2 separate regions of the Homo sapiens genome follow, and region 2 is linked to region 1. A link means that fine-mapping ties the variant in region 1 to the expression of a gene that starts in the linked region. Tissue or cell type: blood mononuclear cells. Region 1 holds a variant in brackets; the other region holds the start of a gene. All regions are shown on one strand. Distances are from middle to middle.

The links.
Region 2: it holds the start of LPIN3, and the variant in region 1 is fine-mapped to the expression of LPIN3 in blood mononuclear cells (TOPMed, PIP above 0.99).

The regions. Positions count from the first base shown.
Region 1 is chr20:41,365,814-41,376,394 of GRCh38, reverse strand. EMILIN3 (elastin microfibril interfacer 3) reads left to right here and starts at 9,577. Exons shown (of 4, transcript NM_052846.2): 1 at 9,577-9,927. The coding sequence starts at 9,761. It also overlaps the pseudogene LOC124904985. RefSeq lists an enhancer at 10,339-10,581. The variant G/C (reference allele first, on the strand shown) is at 4,080.
Region 2 is chr20:41,334,553-41,345,133 of GRCh38, reverse strand. LPIN3 (lipin 3) reads right to left here and starts at 4,313. Exons shown (of 20, transcript NM_022896.3): 1 at 4,132-4,313. RefSeq lists a silencer at 4,332-4,491 and an enhancer at 4,652-4,701.

The sequences.
Region 1 (10,581 bases):
CTAGACGTCTCCCCTCTCTTCCCAGGAATGCTGCCCTGGCTGGCACACTTGAGTGTCTAAGGTCAGGCCCTCAAGGTGGGGGAAACCCGTTTCTCTCCTGCTGACAATTTGGGCTCCAGGTATAATGGGCAATCAAAGCTCTTCCTGATTATGGGAAAAGGAGAAGAATGAGGTTTGCGGGAGGAGAAAGGGAGGGTCCCTGGGAAGGAGATGGTGAGAAGAGAGGCTAGGGATGGGGGAAAGGACGAAAAACCCACGAGGGACCCAAAGCTGGAAGGGTGGTCAGTGGTGCGGCAGCCGCCTGGGAAGTGCCAGGCCCGTGGAACAGGGAAGGATGGCCTCGGGGCAGCAGAGGGGCTGTGGCCTCAGCCAGCCGTGCCTTCTGACCAAGTGCCTTCATCAGCTATCTGGGAGGAGGGGTCACAAGGACAGCCAGTCAGCGACTTCCCTGTGGCTCTAACAGGAGCCCTGGACAGCAGTGGGGTAGGGTGGGCCTCTGACCTTGCACTACAGTATGCTCTGGCCCCCTGCCCTGCCCCCAGCTTCAAAGGGGCAGCCAACAAATGGGACACCTTAACAGTGTGCATATCCTGCTGCCCTCCAGACAGCCTTCTCCCCCGGGGTACCTGAAGGCACCTCCAATTCAGTGTGGCTTCCCTCCAGACTGGTGTACCCCTCTGTCCTTGTCTCAGCAAAAGAGACCCCCCATGCCAGAAACCTGTAGTCATCCTGGAGCCCCTCAAAAGTCAAAAGGCCTCATCGCCTGGATACTTTCAGCTGGTCCCTTCCATCCTCACCAACATGGTTCCAGCCTTCACCCTGGCTCAGGCACCTGCACTGCCACCTAACTGGCACTACCAACCACCCACTCCATGGTGGGCAGCTGGGGGATGATGGGGCTCTTCATGAGGCCAGAGAAACAGGAGGAGGATGGAGAGAGGGAGGGAGAGGGAGGGGAGGGGAGACTGTGACTGGAGGTGGGACTGTGGTGATATGGCCAGGGAGGAAGATACCCTAATCCCAGTGCAGCCCCTGGGGCAAGGGAGGGAAGGAAAGGATACAGTCCCCGCCATGGGAGCCTCCTGTCCGCTCTTTCCCAAAGGAACTAGGGCTGCTGGCCAACACCAGCATAGCCAGGAATGTGGGAGCCCTGGCTGCAAAGACTCAACCTGGGGAAGGCCTCAAAGGTCACATGGCAAGGGCAGGTGGGTGGGACCCGGGCAAAAGGAGAAGGCTGGGCTGCTCTGGAGGGGAAAGGGGTGTCAGAAGGTCAGGCCCTGGCAGGGACCCCTTTTGAATAGACGCCAGATATATCATCTAGCCCTAAGCATAAGACAGAATCCTGGGGCCCCACCAGGGTGGGGCCCATGACCCTGACCTTAGCCCTGAGCCTTCTCCAGCCAGCTCATTGAAGGCTGGTGACTCTCTCTCCAAAATGCCCACCCTCTCTCATCTCCAGCATCTCTTGCCTGGATGCCAGTGCCAGCCTGCCTAGTGCCATCTCCTCATGGCTACAGAATGACCCATCTAACACCCACGGTCCATTCATCTGGCAAACTTGGGCAAGAGATGGCCCCCCGCATCCAGGACTGCCAGTCTGGATTGGAGCTCGACTCAGAAATAGACAATGGCAGTGGCACTAGGAAGTGGTCTGGAGTGGATTCAAGGGGCTGAAGGCCAAGCATCAAAATGCAGCAACCCCCAGCCTCCTCAAGTCCTCAGCCTGCACGCAGCCCTCTCCCCTCCTGCCATGTCCCCTCCTAAGTCCCCTCCCTCTGATTGGAGCATGTGTCTCCCACCATGGATGCTCTTTCCCCTCTCACCTCCCCAGGCCCCTTTCTGGCCCCTCCTGGGGCTTCTCTAACTCTCATCCACCTCTGCCCCTCTGGATGCCTTGAGCACAGAGCCTGGAGCCGACCTGTCTGTGCTTCCAGCACCGGGTGCCCAGCAAATGTCCCAGCAAATTAAGGAATTAAGGCAGAGCAGGTCTGAGATAAGGACAGTGTCTGGGTGAAGGTCAGGTTCTGCCTGTCCAAGCATGAGTCTTCCATGGCAACACCCTCCCCTTCCTTCCCCCCATGGAGGGTAGCCCCCTCCCCTGCTTGTTTTGGCCTCTCTGCACACACCCTGCATTGCAAGCCTGCCTCCCCCATCACCAGTGGGTAATCTTGTGTAGTTTTTACTCTGGTGTCCATGAATAGAAGAGTTAGAGGAGAGCTGATGGTGAGCCCTTCCCAGGGCCTTGCAACCACACCCCCGCATCAATGCCTGAGCAGCTCTGCACTCTACTCCCCCGCCCCCAGCCTCTCCCCATCCCTGTCCTAATCAGGCCTGGAGGCCAGCCCCTCCAGCAAGGGGCAGCCCCAGGTCCTTACTGGGGTCAGGCCAGCTGTGCCACATACTCTGGTCAGTGTCCGGACCTTCCAACTGGAGGCTCAGCCTGGCTCTAGCTGTGGTGGGCACAGGGAATGCAGACCCCTGCCCTGTACAGCTCATTCAACCCTGCCTCAGCCCTGATGTTTTGTCTCCTCTCTTTGTGGTACCTTCTAGACTCCTTCCCACACCCAGAGCCCCAGATTAGCCACCAAGGCCTTTTAGTCCTTTGTCCTGAAAGCCTCTAGAATCTAGCCCTGTTCCTCATCCCTCGGTCCCTGTTAGCCTGGTGGCTGACAGCTGCCAGGGCCACCCCACCGGCACCCCACCTCGTGTGTCTGCTCCACACAGCTGCAGCCACAGGATGTTTTTCCCGACAGTTCTGCATGCATCGTTTCCAGCTGTAAAGTCCAGACTTTTCACTGGGGTATTCAAGGCCCCTCTTGTCTGGCCCCTGCCAACCTCTCTTGGAGCCTGGGCTACCCAGAGCTCTGCGGGGTTCCCCATACATACCAGGCTCTCTCCTGCCTCCAGGCCATGCACATGCCGCACCCACCACCCACGGTGCTTTCTCCCCGTGCGGTGAACTCTAGTGTTGCCTGTTTTGTGAAACACCCTCTGATCCCTTCCCCCAAGCTCAGGCACCCAGGCACTTCTTCCTCTGTGAGCCCACGCTACCCTATGGTTCCTGACTATACAAGTTCATGTCCCCCTCTGCATGCAGGTCTGTCCCCCTCTCTTGGGTTGGGTTCCACAAAAGCAGATCCTGAGACAGGGATCTAGTTATAAGTCATTTATCAAGGGGGCTCCTGGGAGAGATACATAAGGGAGGTAGGAAAACAGGAGAGGATGGAAATAGAGCAAGAATGGATCCCAGGTAGAGTCTAGAGGGGCCTGACCAAGGGGGCTCTGCAACATAAACTAACACTGGGCTGTCCACCATGAGGCGAGGAGGCTGCCTTTTTTGTCCCCCTGTATATTAGTCCATTTTCACACTGCTGATAAAGACATATTCTAGACTGGGCAGTTTACAAAAGAAAGAGGTTTATTGGACTTACAGCTACGTGGCTGGGGAGGCCTCACAATCATGGTGGAAGGTGAAAGGCACATCTCACATGGCGGCAGACAAGAAAAGAGCGCTTGTGCAGGGAAACTCCCCTTTTTAAAACCATCAGATCTTGTGAGACTGAATCACTATCATGAGAACAGTGCAGGAAAGACCTGCCCCCATAATCCAATCACCTCCCACCAGGTTCCTCCCACGACACATGGGAATTGTGAGAGTTACAATTCAAGATGAGATTTGGGTGGGGACACAGCCAAACCATTTCACCCTATCAGCCAGTCACTCCTCAGCCAAGGGCAATTCACAGAAGGGGCAGCTGGGAGCATTCCCAGTAATCACACCTGCAGCCAGGGGATTCATGGGTACACTGACCAGGGAAAGGGAGTCTGGCTGGGGTACCCACAGCACCCCTGTTGAGTGTGACCTCTGCCAGATTTCTTGACGAGTGAGAGGTACATGGATTCCTGGTCCATCCAAGCACTGACATTTTCCAAACCCAGAGCTGCATGTGCTGCTTTGCAAGAAGGTCCTGCCCACAGCCTGAGGGGGCACAGCTGCTACTGCAGTGACTAGAAAGGAGGCCCAGATATCCAACCCCCAAGAAAGGACTCTGTGCAGAGCCCTGCCACACTCACTGGGC[G/C]TCTGTTATGTGCACGACTGTGCACATGGGAGCCTTGGCCAAAGTTCTCATCTATTCCTCATAATAATCATTTTCGTATAGGAAAGCAGAGGCTCAGAGGGGTGAAGTGACTCAAGGGAGGTCATGCAACTTGTGAGTGGAAGAGCTGGGATTCAAACCTGAGTCTAATTGACTCCTTGCCTGATTTCTTCCCCACAGTGTGTGAACCACCTTGGAGCAAAGCCCTTCCTGCCCACCATAAGAAAACTGGCAAGTCCTAGCTAGGTGCAGTGGCTCATGCCTGTAATCCCAGCACTTTGGGAGGCCAAGGCAGGTGGATCACTTGAGGTCAAGAGTTCAAGACCGGCCTGGCCAACATGGTGAAACCCCATCTCTACTGAAAATACAAAAATTAGCTGGGCGTGGTGGCTCACGCTTGTAGTGCCAGCTACTCCAGAGGCTGAGGCACGAGAATGACTTGAACCTGGGAGTCGGAGGTTGCAGTGAGCCAAGATCACGCCACTGCACTCCAGCCTGGGCAACAGAGTGAGACTCAGTCTCAAAAAAAAAAAAAGAAACTGGCAAGTCCAGGGTGATCTCTCTGCCCCACAACAGGTCTCAGCTAAACTTAGGGTCCTCAAGGACCATATCTGGCATTTGCAATAGTTGGGAGACCTGTGCATGTATTTTGTATATAATTTGCGTAATGTTGCATCTGGTTTGCATATGTCCATGTTGACAGTCCATCAGCAGTCACAATTTCTAAGCTGTTCCTAAGCTACTCTCACTCAATGGAAGTCCGTCCAGGCTTTACAGAGCCCAGTTTCCACGATTTCTGGACTCTTCCAGGACCTTGCCTCCAGGCTGCACATCTATCCCCCCTAGGATCCTGGACGAGCCCTGCTTCTGCCTAGCTGGATGGGGTCAGTGCAAACCCCTGCCTCAGAAACTCATGTGCATTTGGTATAACCTTTTATGATGGTGCAGATATAATCAAAATGCTGATGGTGATGATGTGGAGAAAAAAGTGAGCCTGGGCAAAGAGCCTTGCTGCACAGAACTTCCAAATGTGGCTCTGTGGGCAGGGAGGCCTAGCTGTGCACTCTCAAAAAAGAAAAAAAAAGAGGGTAAGGGAGATGGTCAGGGACAAAGGGCTGCACCTTAGGGCTGGTGCCTTCAAGGGCTGTGGTCCCTGTGCAGGAGGGGTCCATCTGCAGCAGGAAGAGCTTGTACCAGAAAGCCAGCAGCTTCAGTGCTTTCTATTTCTGTCTCTTTTAGGGGAACTGCATCCCATACAACTTTGTGTGGTTTTTAATACTCTTATGTGCTGGGCCCTCAATAAGAAAAGGAAAGGCCAGATGTGGTGGCTCATGCCTGTAATCCCAGCACTTTAGGAGGCCAAGGTGGGCGGATCATTTGAGACCAGCCTGGCTAACATGGCGAAACCCTGTCTCTACTAAAAAAAAAAAAAAGAAATACAAAAAATTAGCCAGGCGTGGTGGCATGTGCCTGTAATCCCAGCTGCTTGGGAGGCTGAGTCAGGAGAATTGCTTGAACCTGGGAGGCAGAGGTTGCAGTGAGCCGAGATCACGCCACTGCACTCCAGCCTGGGCAACAGAGTGAGACTCCGTAAAAAAAAAAAAAGAAAAGAAAAAAAAGAAAAGAACAGAAAAGAAAGGCAGGATGCATAGGGCTCACCCCTGCAGTCCCAATACTTTGGGAGGCCAAAGCAGGAGGATCACTTGAGGCCAGGAGTCTGAGACTAGCCTAGGCAGCATAGTGAGACCCCATCTGTACGAAAGGAAAAACTCATGCACATGCATGATAGTGGTATGGGGGATGGGTTGGGTGTGGTTGTGCATGTCCCTGTGAACTGAAACTGCACTCCCACTCCCGTGTATGGCCCGTTTCCATCCAGGTGTAGAAACTCCAGTCTGAGTCAGAGGAACATGACTGCCTCCTTTCCTCCTCTGCTTCTGGCCTCCCTAGGTTTCCTGTCTGGCAGATGCAAAGTGGCCTCATCGTCTATGGGGGGACCCCCGCTCTGGCCTGATCCAGCCAAGACCCTGAGCATCTCCCTGTACTGAGGTCCTCCACCCCCACTAGAATGGGGCCCAGATCCTGGATCCCAAAACTGTTGCAGTGAAAGAGGGAGCATGGTGTTTGATGTCAGCCACCTGGGAAAGGGGGAAGTGGGGTCCAGCTATCCTTTTAGCCCCTATGACGTGGATATTTCCAAGCTCAAACAGGGTCCAGCCTCTTCCTTGTGAGTTTTGGGCCCCACATCTGGGGCTGGGGAAGGGAGTGAGAGGAAGGGGTGGGACCACTTGGAAAAAGATCACAGCCTCTGGGGTGGGGGAGTTCCTCCCAGAGCCAGGCTGGGCAATGCTGCCAGGCAGTCAGCACCCAGCCTAGGATGAGGAGCTGGCTCAGATGTTTCTCACTTCCTAAAAAGCGCAAAGTCAGTGGTTACAAGATCAAGAGCTTGTTGGGGATATGGTGTATCTTGCCCTCAGCAAAATGGTTCATAACATCTCTCTTAGAGGTTGGAGCATATAATAGCACATTCGGTGCTTTTATAGGGAGAGTGAAAGGCTGTCTTAGGGACCATGTGGTTGCTGTAAGACTATACTTTCAGGGATCATTTCTACAGTTCATGACTAGAGAAGTTTCTCTCTGTAGAGCACATTTGGTTGCTGGGATCAGAAACCCATTCAAGCTAGCTCCAATGGTGGACTACTGGAAGCAGATAGGGAAGTCACAGCTTGTCCCCAGATGGTTACTCACCACATAGCCCCTGACTCTGCCCCTCTCTCCCCTGACCACACTCTTTCTCCCTTTCCCATGATTCCCCCAGAGCTCTCGTGGTCTCTCCTATCATTACCAGCCAAGTGCCCCTGTAGTGGATTGAATTGTGCCCCTCCCAAAATTCATGAACATTTGGAACCTCAGAATGTGACCTTATTTGGAAATAGGGTCTTTGTAGACGTAATCATTTGAGATGAGGTTATGTTGGGCTGTACATCCAATGACTGGTGTCCTTATAAGAAGAGGAGGCTGGGCTGGGTGCAGTGGCTCACGCCTAGAATCCTAGCAATTTGGGAGACTGAGGTGAGAGCATCACTTGAGCTCAGGAGTTTGTGACCAGCTTGGGCAACAAAGTGAGAGCCCATCTCTACAGAAATTTTAAAAATGAGCTGTGCATGGTGGTGCACAACTGTGGTCCCAGCTACAGAGGAGGTGGGGGCAGGAGGATCACTTGAGCTCAGGAGGTCGACGCTGCATTCCAGCCTGGGTGATGGAGCTAGACCTTGTCTCTATTTATTTATTTATTTATGGAGATGGAGTTTCGCTCTTGTCACCCAGGCTGGAGTGCAATGGCATGATCTCGGCTCATTGCAACCTCCACCTCCAGGGTTCAAGTGATTCTCTTGCCTCAGCCTCCCAGGTAGCTGGGATTACAGGCGCCCGCCACCACGCCCGGCTAATTTTTTTATTTTTAGTAGAGATGGGGTTTCACCATATTGGCCAGGCTGGTCTCAAACTCCTGACCTCAGGTGATCCCCCCACCTCGGCCTCCCAAAGTGCTGGGATTACAGGCATGAGCCATCGCGCCCAGCCCTGTCTCAAATTTAAAAACACAACCAGAAAGGCAGGGCGCGGTGGCTCACGCCTGTAATCCTAGCACTTTGGGAGGCCGAGGCGGACGGATCACGAGATCAGGAGATCGAGACCATCCTGGCTAACACGGTGAAACCACGTCTCTACTAAAAAAAAAAAAAAAATACAAAAAAATTAGCTGGGCATTATGGCGGGCGCCTGTAGTCCCAGCCACTCGGGAGGCTGAGGCAGGAGAATGGCGTGAACCCGGGAGGCAGAGCTTGCAGTGAGCCGAGATCGCGCCACTGCACTCCAGCCTGGGCGACAGAGCGAGACTCTGGCTCAAAAAACAAAAACAGAAAGAAGAGGAAAGGACACAGATCACAGTCACAGAGAAAAAAAGGTCACCTGAAGAGGGATATGCGGAGGGAAAGTAGAGGCTGGAGTGATGCTGCTACAAAGAATCCTTGACCAAAGAACGCCAGAGATTGCCAGGAACCACCAGTGGCTGGAAGAGGCAAGGAAGGCTTCTCCCCAGAGCCACTGGAGGGGGCATTGCCCTGCTGGCCCATGGATTTTGGAGTTAGCCTCCAGAAATGTGCAAGAATACATTTCTGTGTGTTAAGCCACTGAGTCTGTGGCTGTTACCACAGCCCTGAGAAACTCACACAACCTACACCTGGAAGCTGGATTCCTTCAGCTTCTGTGTTCTGATTCCAAAGCCTGGGGGAAAGCAGGATGGGCCTAGCTGGGGTCAGATGTCCGCCCCACAGAACCCAAAAGCCACTAAAGCTAAGGGCAGGAAATAGATGTGGGTTTCGGAGCTGCCCCTTCCAGTATCCTTGATAACCATCACCCTATCCAAAAGGCATTAATTCATATCTCAAGGTCAATTTGGAGGGAGGTCTCTCCAAGCAAGCCCCAGAGTTCTGTACACCTATCAGCTCCTGGGGCAAAGACACAGACGGCTGTAGCCACCGGTGTGGATGAGACAAGGCCAGGAAAGTACCGCTCTGATGACAGAATCAGAAGGACTCTGTGCAGGTTAGAGAGTTAGCAAGGTGATACTGAATGAGGACGACGATAAAACCCAACTCTTGGGTTCCAAGAGTCAACTTCACAAGCAAAATGTGGACGACGCCTGGCTTCACCGCGGCAGTGCCTTGTGAGAAAGACCTGAGGATTTTCTCTGACCAGCCGGCTTAGAGCTTCAGTTGCACGAAAAGCACAGCACTTTTGGCTGGGCTGGGGCGGTGATAGGCCTTTCGGGCTCGGTGCAACCCATACCTAAGACAGAGAGGCAACACAGGCGCCTCCAGAGAACCAGAGGTGCAACCGGGCCACCAGGCTACGTGGCAGAGGTTGCGGGGTAAGGGGGAGGTGGGATGCCTGGGGAGAGGTCAGCGGAGTTATCAAACTAAGGTTCCCGGGCAATGATGGGGCCAGGAGGCAGAGCGAGCAAACGGGGATGATCTGGGGTCTATTCCAAAGAGGTGGCGGGGGAGGTGGTGCTGCTGTGCCCCCAGTCACGGCCATCTCGGCTCCAGAGCCCTGGAGAGCAGTTCCCGGGTTCACACGGACTCTGAAGACAAGCGTATCCTGAGGGTGGACGACTCCTGGAAAGTCCACGCCCAGGCTGGCCTCAGGGGTCCGCTTCTCTGCGTCTCGCCCCGTGCCCGCAGGCGACAGAGTGGCTGGTGTGCTCGGGGGGCCTCCCAGGGCGCGGCGGCCTGCGCCCCTGCCACCTGGGGCTGCTCCCTTTGGAACCTCCTGTTCGCAGGCGGCTCCTCGGCCGTCCGCTCGGAGCTGGGGCGAGGGGCTGGCGGCGGCGAGCGGCGCGGCCCCAAGTTTATGCTAATCCGCAAAGAGCCCGCCTCCCGCCTCCCCTCCGCGGCCCCAGCCGCTAGCAGCGCCGGCCACTCCGCGGGACGCAGCCGCCGCGAAGCGCCAGGCGGCCGGGCCAGCGAGCTCGGGGGCCGAAGGGGACCCCGGGACCCTCGGGGCGGGACCCGGGCCGACCAGCGGCGGGGGCGGCGCGGCGCTGCAGGCGGACACCCGGCGGGGGGCACCGCGCGGGGCCGGGCAGAGGCGCGGGGGCCGCTATGGGCCGCCGCCGCCTGCTCGTCTGGCTGTGCGCCGTCGCGGCGCTGCTCTCGGGGGCGCAGGCCAGGGGCACCCCGCTCCTGGCGCGGCCTGCGCCGCCCGGTGCCTCCCGCTACAGTCTCTACACGACGGGATGGCGCCCGCGGCTGCGCCCGGGGCCGCACAAGTAAGCGCGGGCGGGCGGCGGGCGGGAAGAGGGAGGGATGGGCCCGCGCGCGTCGCCGCTCCCACCTGCCCGCACCCGCGGGGGGCGTCGAGGCCCCGGGCACCCCGAGGCCGCTGCACAGAGGGGGCGGCGCCCGGGGCCGAGCCCCTGCCCAGGCGAGCGCCCTACGCTCCGGGAGGTTGCGGGGCTGGCGAGGAAAAAGGAACCGAGGGGGCCTGGCGCGGCGGCTTGGGATCCTGGCAGTGCCAGCGGAAACCTTTCCAGCGAAGTAACATTTTCCAGCTGCGCTGTGTGCAGACTCCGGGCGAGCGGACCAGGTGGAGGGAGAGGAGGAAAGGCGGTCCGCGCGCTGAGCACGCGGGGCTCCCCCGCCCCGGGCCTCCCTTCTCTCCCCTGGCCCGGCCAGGTAGGAGATAGAGCTGCGCATCCGGGCGGCCGCTGCCCTCTCGCAGTCAGCCTGGCCCCAGCAACCCCATGGGAGCCCCAGCGTGGCCGGGCTGCAGAGCCAGAGCGGGCTCCTGGCTCCGGGCCTGTGCTGTGGCACAGCCGTCCACAGCGGTCGGCTTATGCCAGGCAGCCACCTCCTCAGCCCTTGTGGCTCATCAAGGAGCCTGCTTTCCCCGCCTCAGCTTCTGGTGTTTCGTGGGCAGTGGC
Region 2 (10,581 bases), 31 kb after region 1:
TCTGAGAAATGGGCTCAGCTGTCTTGCTATCTGCTGGTCCTGTGAGTTGGAAGGTGTCTTGCTGGGCGATTGTAGCTGACTTATGGGGGACCAAGGGTGGGAGCACCCCAGGTACTCAAGGCTCTGTTCAGCCCCATTCCTGGGGTCAGATGCTCAAGGCAGAGCATCCCCTATAGCTGGGGGCTTAAGGCCCCAAACTACAAATTCCTTCCCAGTTTCCCTGGTGGGAAGCCTGTCCATGCACAGCCTGACCCCAGCGGTGTCCAGGCTATAGTTCTCAGACCCCAATTTCAACCCTAACCCCAGCTCCTCAGACCAGGGCTGAGCTGGCTAGGCGCTCAGACCCACAATCAGGCCTTGGGCTGGCCTCAGCCCACTGAAGCTGCTCCCTCCCCCAGCCAGACCGGTCTCTCCAGCTTTCCCACACCAGACAGGCCTGGGTAAGCCCAAAGCAGGAGGCTGAGGCGGCCTCAGAGAAAAAACAGGGCTATGATGAGAGCCTCCTCCAAGCTGGCACAGTGCCTGCCCCAGCAGCTTCAGGTGATCACCCCTGCCCTCCTGGCCAGGCCAGTGGCCTGCTGCCCCTCTGCCTGCCAAGACCCAGACTGTCCTATCTCTACAGAGCACTTTCTTCTCTCAGACCCTGGGTCAGAACCCCTGGAGGACAGCCTGCCATGCAAGACCACTTAGCAAAGAAGCTAAGTGACTTACCCAAGGTTAAGTGACTTTACAGGTGAGGAAACTATTCAAGCTCTTCTAAGCTGACAGGCCATAGAAGGGGTATAGGGAGGGGAGAGAGGGAGTAAAGACTCATATCCAGCTCTCCTGACTCTAGAGCATGGTCTCCTTCCACTCCATGCTTCCAAACCACCCAAGAGTTGGTTGCATGGCCCATGGCCACTTCTGCACAGCCCTGCAATGCCCTGCACTCAAAATGTGGTATGCACCAGCAACAAACATCAGCATCAGCATCACCTGGGAGCTTGTTAGAAACAGAAACTTAGGCCCAACTCAGCCCTACTGAATCAGCATCTGCATATTTTTCTTTTCTTTTCTTTTCTTTTTTTTTTTTGAGACAGGATCTCACTCTGTTACCCAGGCTGGTGTGCAGTGGCACCAAAATGACTCACTGCGGCCTCAACCTCCCAGGCTCTAGTGATCCTCCTGCCTCAGCCTCCTGAGTAGCTGGGACTACAGGCATGTACCACCATAACTGGCTAACTTTTAAATTTCTTTTGTAGAGACAGGGTCTCACTATGTTGCCCACGTTGGTCTCAAACTCCTGGACTCAAGTGATCCTCCCACCTTGGCCTACCAAAGTGCCGGGACTACAGGCGTGAGCCATTGCACCTGGCCTAGCATCTGCATTTTAACAGGATCCCGAGGTGATTCCTGCAGCCTTTCATGTGTTTGAAAGGAACTGCTTTTGTGTTCCCAGTCCACAGTCTACTCTTGGAAGAGCCTAAACGACAAGACCCCCACCTCCACAGCATTTCTCAGATAATGCCACATCCTGCCCATCCTAGGACATCGGATGAAGCAGTGGATTCTTTCAGTCTATGTCAGAGCGTCACAAACATAAGACACAATTCAAATTGCCAAAGTGAAAATGGGATGAAATGAAACTCCCTGGACCCCTAAGATGTCACTCAAATCAAGTTTATCTGCAAGGCACCTGCCATGTGCTAGATGGGACATTTCCACTTTGGTTTCTCCCTACCTAATGCCAAACTCTGAATACAGGTCTGGGGAGACAGAGTGGTGACAGACACTTGGTGGGCAGACCTCTAAACCACTGTGCCCAGGAAAAGCAGAGAGGACTCCAGAGGCTTCCAGGAATTAAGGAGCAAGCATGGGGAGGGGCAGAGCCGGGGTTGGGGCAAAGGTCCATCCAGCTGGAGGCCCAAGCCTGAGCTTTCTGCCCTATTAAGCCCTAGTGCAGTTTCTCAGCTTCAGCATTACTGTCCTTTGGGGCCAGATAATTCTTTGCTGGGGGGTGGGTGGGTGCACTGTAGGATATTCAGCAGCATCCCTGGTCTCTGCCCATTAGATGCCAGTAGCACTTCATCCCCCGCAGCTCCAGGTTGTGACAGCCAAATTGTCTTCAGACATTTTTAAATGTCTCCTGGGGGACAAAATTGCCCCCAGCTGAGAACCACGATCTAGTAGAAAGGGCCGAATAGCAGAGATGGCACCCGGGGTCCTACTCGGATCCAGCCCTGGAGTATTCTCAGGCAAGTAACTGGCTGGCCTCAGTTTCCCCTTCTGTGAACCAAGGCCTCAGTTTTTTAGACCCATCTCCCTCAGATCTAATGTCACGGGAGTCCAGAATTCTCTCCTCTCTCTGTTCCCCCCACTTCACCAATGGATGTCCCCCACATCTGCCTGCTCGGCATTTTGGGGGCCTTCTGTGAGCCCCCCACATCTGCCTGCTCAGCATTTTGGGGGCTTCCAGTGAGCCCCCCCACATCTGCCTGCTCAGCATTTTGGGGGCCTTCTGTGAGCCCGCCTCTGTCTTCACCTATCCCTTAGGCACCCCCTTTTCCCAGGACCCAGCTCTACCTCCTTGTTCTTTTCCAGACAGAGGAGAGCTCTGCTTGGCTCCCCTCTATCACCCTCCACCCACAAACTAACATGTCTAAAATCAGCCACTTCACTCCTCACACCTTCCCAGGAAGCCGAATACCCCTTAGGACTAGTCACTACCCCTCTCTCCCTCCCTAGCCCTCTGAATCTTCTCCCCCAATTTCCTGCTCATCCAGCCCCTCCTTTCTCCAGCTGTCCTAGGTTAAGACTTTATAACCAGATGCCCAGATCACGGGTGGCCACAGGACATTAGGAGAAAAGGCACCAGATTATCTGGGTGCTGATCCCCACTCCGCCATTTGCTAGCTGTGACCATGGGCAAGTGACTTCATCTCTCTGACCCTCAGTCTCAGCCTCCAAAATGGGAATAACATCAGGCACGTGTGAGTAACTAATGACTTTGTGTAAAGCCCTGGAATGCAATAAAAACCTGTATGTACACCTATCAGCAGCAGCATCATGACAGCCCCACTCATGCAGGCTGGTCCTGTGGGCACTGCAGGTCATACTCTGATGAACTGCCCCTGCCAGCAGTTGAGAGTTTGGACTTCTTTTATTTATTTATTTTTTTGAGATGGAGTCTTGCCCTGTCACCCAGACTGGAGTGCGGTGGCATGATTTTGGCTCACTGCAAGCTCCGCCTGCTGGGTTCAAGCAATTCTCCTGCCTCAGCCTCCCGAGTAGCTGGGACTACAGGCGTGTGCCACCACACCCGGCTAATTTTTTGTATTTTTAGTGGAGACGGGGTTTCACCGTGTTAGGATGGTCTCGATCTCCTGACCTCATGATCCACCCGCCTCAGTCTCCAAAGTGCTGGGATTACAGGCGTGAGCCACCGCGCCCAGCGGAGTTTGGACTTCTTAACTTGGCACTCAAGGCCATGCACAATGGTGGCACCACTATTTGCAAAACGAGCATGTGCACTCCACGTAGGCCTCACACCCCACCTTGGGGATGTTCACAGGCCTTCCAGGCTAGACTACAACTCTAGCACAGGGAAGCCAGAGCAAGCTGCCCTAGGACTAGGCTCTCAGCCCTCGGGGCTCCCAGGTTTGGGTGGATGAAGGGTGTGGCTCTCCACCGAGGACCAGAGGGAGCAGGAGAGTAAGCACTCCTAGTGCCCCAGTAGAGAGAAAGCGCCACCCCAGCCCCCAGCAGCTACAGCATCTGATCTGCCCAGTCTCAGGGCAAGCAGGGCAAGGGCCAGTCACTGTTTTGCAACTGAGGACACTGGGTACCAGAGAAAGTGGCTGTCCTCCTCAAGGTCACACAGTCAGGCTGGGGTAAAGCTGGGCCAGCCTCCCCTGGGAGGTTTCGACGTCTCCTCTCCAGACTCTACGTTCTGGGTGTCCAGGGGGCCTGCAGCCGCTGGGCCAGGGAAAAAGGGACAAAATGAGGCCAGTCCCTCCACCCCTGCGTCCCCATCTTACAGCTAGGGGTGGACCCAGGCCCGCGGACAGGAAGGAAGGAATGTAGGATGGCAGGACAGATGGGCAGGGCGGGAGGGGAGAGGGTCATCTCTTCTCCCCCCGAGTTGGGCCCTACCTGGGGAGCTGCCCACTGGAGCTCCTGGACTCAGAGCCGCCGCCTCTACCTACGTGCACAGGCTCCACAGGTGAGTGTCTTCGGCCCTCAGTCACTTGGCGCTTCCGGGTCCTCTAAGACAGGGTGAGAGCACGGCTCCACTCCTTCTACGATCCTAGTGCGGCCTCCACAGGCCCCAATCTGCCCAGGCTCCACTCCCTGGAAAGACCCCGCCCCTGCTCCGATCCCCGCCCAGGGCGCCCTTTGGCCTCGGAGGCGGGGGCGGGGCCAGACTTCATGCCCCGCCCACCAGACCCCGCCCCAAGTCCCTGTGCCACCGCCTGCCCCACCTCCAGAAAAGTGTGGATTTCGGAACGGGGCGGACCTAGCTCCTCCCAGATTTGCTTCCAGCTTGCTGTGTGATCTTGGGTGAATTCCTTCCTCAATTTGATCCCATTTCCTGTTTTGTCAAGGGGGAAAGCCGCCTTGCAGGATTTTAGAGATGACATGAAATGACTTTGCGCGGCTCCTGGCGCTCAAACGTCCCCTCCTGGGGGCAGCTTTTCCTGAACCCACCCGTATCTCCCAGACTGGACAGGCCCCTCGCGTCATCTGTTCGCATAGCCCACAGTTGTAATTTCATATTTGCTTGAATGACTACTTGATTAATGTATATCTCTTCATTTAAATTTGAACTCTGAGAGCAGGTCACGTACATCCTTACACTCCAGCGCTTATCAGTACCTCGCCTGACAAACAGCAGGCGCTCCATAAATGCCCGCACCTTCATTCCATCCCTGGGACGTTCTGGTCGAGCGGCAGCGGGCTCAATACTGACACTGGCCAGCAGGGGGCAGGCGGTGATCAGCCTTCTGGCCCAGCCGCGCTCCCTCCCTGTCTGCAGGCACTGCGGGAGGGGACAGGTGAGCCCAGGTGCGCCGAGGCACGCGGAAGGTGCATTTACTCTCGTGCCTTGGGCAAGGCCCGGGCCGGGAACGGCTTTTTCCTCTTGGATCTGTGGCTCGCGGCTTTCCTGGACCAAAGACCTTTCCGACGCCCTATGGCCCCTGCAAAGAAGCTGCCCTGAGAAGGGCCTGGAGATGAAGTAATTTGTTCTAAAAGAGAGAGGGCACCGAGGAAAGGCTTGGCGGAGCAGCAACGGCGACGAGCCAGGCTTAGAAACGACTGGGCGGTGAGGAGGAGAGGTAGCTGCCATTATTCTGACTCAGGGTGACAGAACCTGTTTGGAAGTGACTGGCCTCAGTTGTCCTCATTTTGGCAGAAGTCATTTAGTATCAGTCCTGATCCCAGGTAGTGTCTGGCTGCTATCTCAGAAGAGCCCTGTTGGGAGCAGAGCTATGTCAAGGTGGCCAGGAGGGCAGCGTCATACATACCATTTTCTGTAACATCAGGAAATCCCTGAAGGGAGCCCGAGAAGGAAGGAAGGAGAGGTCACAGGTTGGGGCTACAGATGCCGAAATCAATTTACCTCTTTGAGCCTCAATTTCATCGGCAAAGGTGGTGATAAAAGCTACCTTGCAGGATTCTATTGTGAGGATTTACAGGATGAATTAAATAAGTGGTTCTCAACCTTGACTGTGTGTTAGAATCACTGTGCCCTAGACGAATACTGATGCCCCGGATACTGGGAGTTTAAAAACCTCTCCAGTTGGTTGTAATGTACAAACAAGGCTGAGAACTGCTGATCCAAATTAAATGCAGAGCACAGCGCCAGGGCACACACTAGGCATTCAGGAATGTTTATCACATATTTATTTTTATTTAAAAAATTTTTGTGTCACACATTTTTAAAGATGGAGCACAAATTGTTTTCATTGTTCATTGTTAGAGGAAAAAAAGTTGATATAAAGGTTGTTGCAGAAATTGCATTTGCGGCTGGGGTGAGGTGGCTTACGCCTGCAATCCCAGCACTTTGGGAGGCAGAGGTGGGCGGATCGTCTGAGGTCAGGAGTTGGAGACCAGCCTGGCCAACACGGTGAAACCCCATCTCTGTTTTTTTGTTTTTGTTTTTGTTTTGAGATGAAGTCTCGCTCTGTCACTCAGGCTGGAGTGCAGTGGCACCATCTCTGCTCACTGCAAGCTCCACTTTCCGGGTTCACGCCATTCTCCTGCCTCAGCCTCCTGAGTAGCTGGGACTACAGGGGCCCATCCCCATGCCCAGCTAATTTTTTGTATTTTTAGTAGAGACAGGGTTTCACTGTGTTAGCCAGGATGGTCTCGATCTCCTGACCTCGTGATCCACCCACCTCAGCCTCCCAAAGTGTTGGGATTACAGGCGTTAGCCACTGCGCTCGGTCCCCCGTCTCTATTAAAAATACAAAAAAAAAAAAAATTAGCCAGGCATGGTGGTGCACAGCTGTAGTCTCAGCTACTCAGGAGGCTGAGGCAGGAGAATCACTTGAACCGAGGAGGTGGAGGTTGCAGTGAGCTGAGATGGCGCCTCTGTACTCCACCCTGGGTGACAGAGCAAGACATTGTCTCAAAAAAAAAAAAAAAGAAAAAGAAAAATTGCATTTCTGACAGGCTCGTTTCTGGAACTCTCAATCATCTGGGATTTGGTGATGAGGGTAGGAGAAGAAAGGCAGATAGAACAGCCTCTGCTAGTATGACTTGTTCTAACACTGAATGGAACTGAATAAGGCAGAGACTGTCCCACTCTAGCTTGTGGTTGACATCACCATCTCCAGGGCTTTCTCTGAGGGTGCAAGCAGCATGGACACTTGTGTTTGCCCATTTCTGGGGTTGAAGGTGGAGGCCATTTTTTCCTCTGCTTGGGTATACTCATCGGATGAGCCTATATCACTGGCAGCTGTTTGTTTCTTCATTAATCCAAGAATGCAGGTGGTACTTCCTTCTTTACAGAATTTGGTAGCTTATGTGTTTTATTGTTTTTTTGTTTTGTTTTAGACAGGGTCTGGCTCTGTCACCCAGGATGGAGTGCAGTGGCACAATCACAGCTCACTGCACCCTTGACCTCCTGGGCTCAAGCAATTCTCCTACTTCAGCCTCTCGAGGAGCTGGGACCACAGGCATGCATGATCACACCTGGCTTTTTTTTTTTTTTTTTTTTTTTTTTAGAGACAGAGTCTCGCTCTGTTGCCCAGGCTGGAGTGTAGTGGCACAATCTCGGCTTATTGCAACCTCCGCCTCCCAGGTTCAAGCGATTATTTGCTTCAGCCTCATGAGTAGCTGGGATTACAGGTGCCTGCCACCATGCCTGGCTAATTTTTGTATTTTTAGGAGAGATAGAGTTTTGCCATCTTAGCCAGGCTGGTCTTGAACTCTTGACCTCATGATCCACCCGCCTGGGCCTCCCAAAGTGCTGGTATTACAGGCGTGAGCCACGGTGCCCAGCCACATCTAGCTAATTTTTAAAAATTTTTTGTAGGGATGGGTGTCTCACTATGTCACCCAGGCTGGTCCCGAACTCCTGGGCTCAAGCAATCCTCTTGTCTCTGCCTCTCAAAGTCCTGGGATGAGTCATTCCATTCACCCTATGTGCTTTGTTAATTTACAGACCCAGTGGTTAGTGACTGTGCCCCTCTACTTTCTTGCTGGGTGAACCTGGCATGAGGTGAGAGGGCCCCCTTACCCAGGCCTGTAGTTGTGATCACTCAGAGCAGCAATACTGGCTTCTGGGAGCAGCTCATCAATCACTCCTGGTGGCTTTGTTGAAGGTGGGAAGGGAGGCAGTGGACCCTGGGGCTGGGTCTCCCACTGCATGCAGGACTAAGGGCTGGGGGGCAGGCAACTGGTGTCTAGTTGGGATTGCCAGATTCAGCAAATAAAAATAAAGGACACTCATGTAAATCTGAATTTCAGATGCACAGCAACTGCTTTTTAATATAAGTATACCCAAGCAATATTTGGGACATACTTATACTAAAAGAAAGTATTCATTATTCATCTGAGATTCAAATTTAACTGGACATACTTTATCTTCTTTGCTAAATCTGGCAACCCTATGTCTAGCCAAACAGCCAAGTCTCCAGCACGTGGGACTTGCTGCCGGCAATGGCCTCTGCCCCATGTTGCCACATTCAGCTTCCACCTGTCACTGCCCAGCTCCAGAACTGTGCGTGGCTCCCAGTTACTTCTACAGGACACTCCCTGGCTGCTGTGCTGGGCCTTGGCTCTTCTGCCAGCCCAGCTGACCTGCTTGGGACCTTTCCCATCTCTGCTCCTGTTCATGCTTTCCCTGCCTGCCATGTCTCCTGCCTACTCCCAGGAGGGATCGCTAACATTTATTGAGCACCTACTGGGTGCATGAGTTCTTCATTTGCATTATCTCATTGGATTTTCACAAAACCCAGGATAATGGGGACAGTAGTTATCCCATTTTACCAGTGAAGAAACTGACACCCTGAGATGGGGATTTGTGTGATCTTGGCTCACTGCAACCTCTGCCTCCCAGGTTCAAGCAATTCTCCTGCCTCAGCCTCCCAAGTAGCTGGGATTACAGGCGCCCACCACCACGCCTAGCTAATTTTTGTATTTTTAGTAGAAACGGGGTTTCACCATGTTGGGCAGGCTGATCTCAAACTCCTGACCTCAAGTGATCCACCCACCTTGGCCTCCCAAAGGTGCTGGGATTACAGGCGTGAGCCACCATGCCAGGCTAACAGTGATTCTTTTTTTTTTTTTTTTTTTTTGAGATGGAGTCTCGCTCTTTCACCCAGGCTGGAGTGCAGTGACGCAATCTTGGCTCACTGCAACCTCTGCCTCCCAGGTTCAAGTGATTCTCCTGCCTCAGCCTCCTGAGTAGCTGGGATTACAGGTTTACAGGTTCGTGCCACCATGCCCGGCTAATTTTCGTATTTTGAGTAGAGAGGGAGTTTCACCGTGTTGGCCAAGCTGGTCTCGAACTCCTGACCTCAAGTGATCCACCCACCTTGGCTTCCCAAAGTGCTGGGATTACAGGCGTGAGCCACAGCACCCAGCCCCAACAGTGATTCTTAAAGTGTGGTCCCTGGACCAGCAGCAGCACTTGGGAACTTGTTAGAAATACCAGTTCTCAGGCCCTACCCCAGACCTACTGAATCAGAAACTCTGGGGGTAGGGCCCAGAATCTGTATTTTAATAAGTCCCTCCCTGCCTGCACCACCAAGTGGATTCTGATGCTCACTCTAGTCTGAGACCTGCTGCTGTAAAAGATAAAGTGACTACCAGACTCTCCCATCCCGGCAGAGGAACAGAGGACAACAGGGTGATTGTGTTCTTCCTGAGCACCATGCCTGGGCCAGGCACTAGAGATGCTGCAGGAGCCCCATAGTCTTAGAGGATGGGGAGGGGAGGGGAAGAACAGACCAGCAGCCAGGGAATTGCAATATAAGATGATGAAACCTGAGGTGGGGCAAGCCCAGGAGCCCATAGTGGGGTGGGAAGGGTCAGAGAATGCTTTCCAGAGAGTGGAAAAGTAAGTTGGAATTAGGTGAAGACAGGTGAGCACAGTGATCCAGGTGCAGGGACTCATTTGTACAAAGGCCAGGCTGAGCCACCTGGGGATAGTTTAGGTTGGGAGGTGGGAAGGGTATAAAATCCCTGCCCTCAGAGCGAAGGAAGACGCTGTAGTGAGTGCTGAGGGTAAAGCCTCTGCCTTCCAGGTGGAGTAAATGCTGGAGAAGATGGAAATTGGGGTGTGAAGAGAGACCCAGGAGGTGCCAGGCCTCCCCACTTCCTTCAATCCAGGAGCTTTTGCTCTCAAGACATTTGCTCAACCCCCAGCCATGTCAGTGAGCAGTGGGCAGGTACGTGGTTGCGAGGTCGGGGCTGCCGGGTCCAAGCGCAGCTCCTTCCTAGGCTAGGTGAGAGATGGAGCTGGGGGAGCAGCCCCCTCCGCCCCCGGCTGGAGAGGTTCCTGCTCTGTGTCCCTGGCTGGGTTGCTTTTGCCTTCCTTGTTTCCTTCTCCTGAGGATGTGGCCAGAACTGTGCACAGCCACTGGGGGCCTCTCCTCCCAGCCAATGGAAACAATTCCTGGATGTTATCAGGGACCCTCAGGCTGGAGGGCAGGAGACTTCTGTTGCCATCCGCAGCTCCTGCTAAAGGTACCTTTTGTGCCAGATGAGGAGTGACCCGGCTTGTCTAGATTGCAACTGTGCGGTTCCCGACTCCCGGAAAGACGTCAGTTTAGCAGCCTTTTTGGAATTTGTTTGTAATTTCTAGCCTGGAGAGGAATCCTGAAAGATCATTAACCAATGTAGGAAGTGGAGCTTTCTGTGGCCTAAAAATCCCTTCAGGATTTCCCAACTGCCCCATGGGTTTGATCCTCAACAAAGGGACCTCCTATTCTTTTTCTTCTTGGGGTGTACCTTCTGCCCCCACCCGCCCTCCATCTGGCATGTGGACCATGTCTTAAGCTTTGCAACTCCAAGAGGATCTGGCACAGTGCCCTCCACTTAGATATTCAGAAATATTGTTTACAGAATATCAGTTTATGCTGGGCCTTGAAC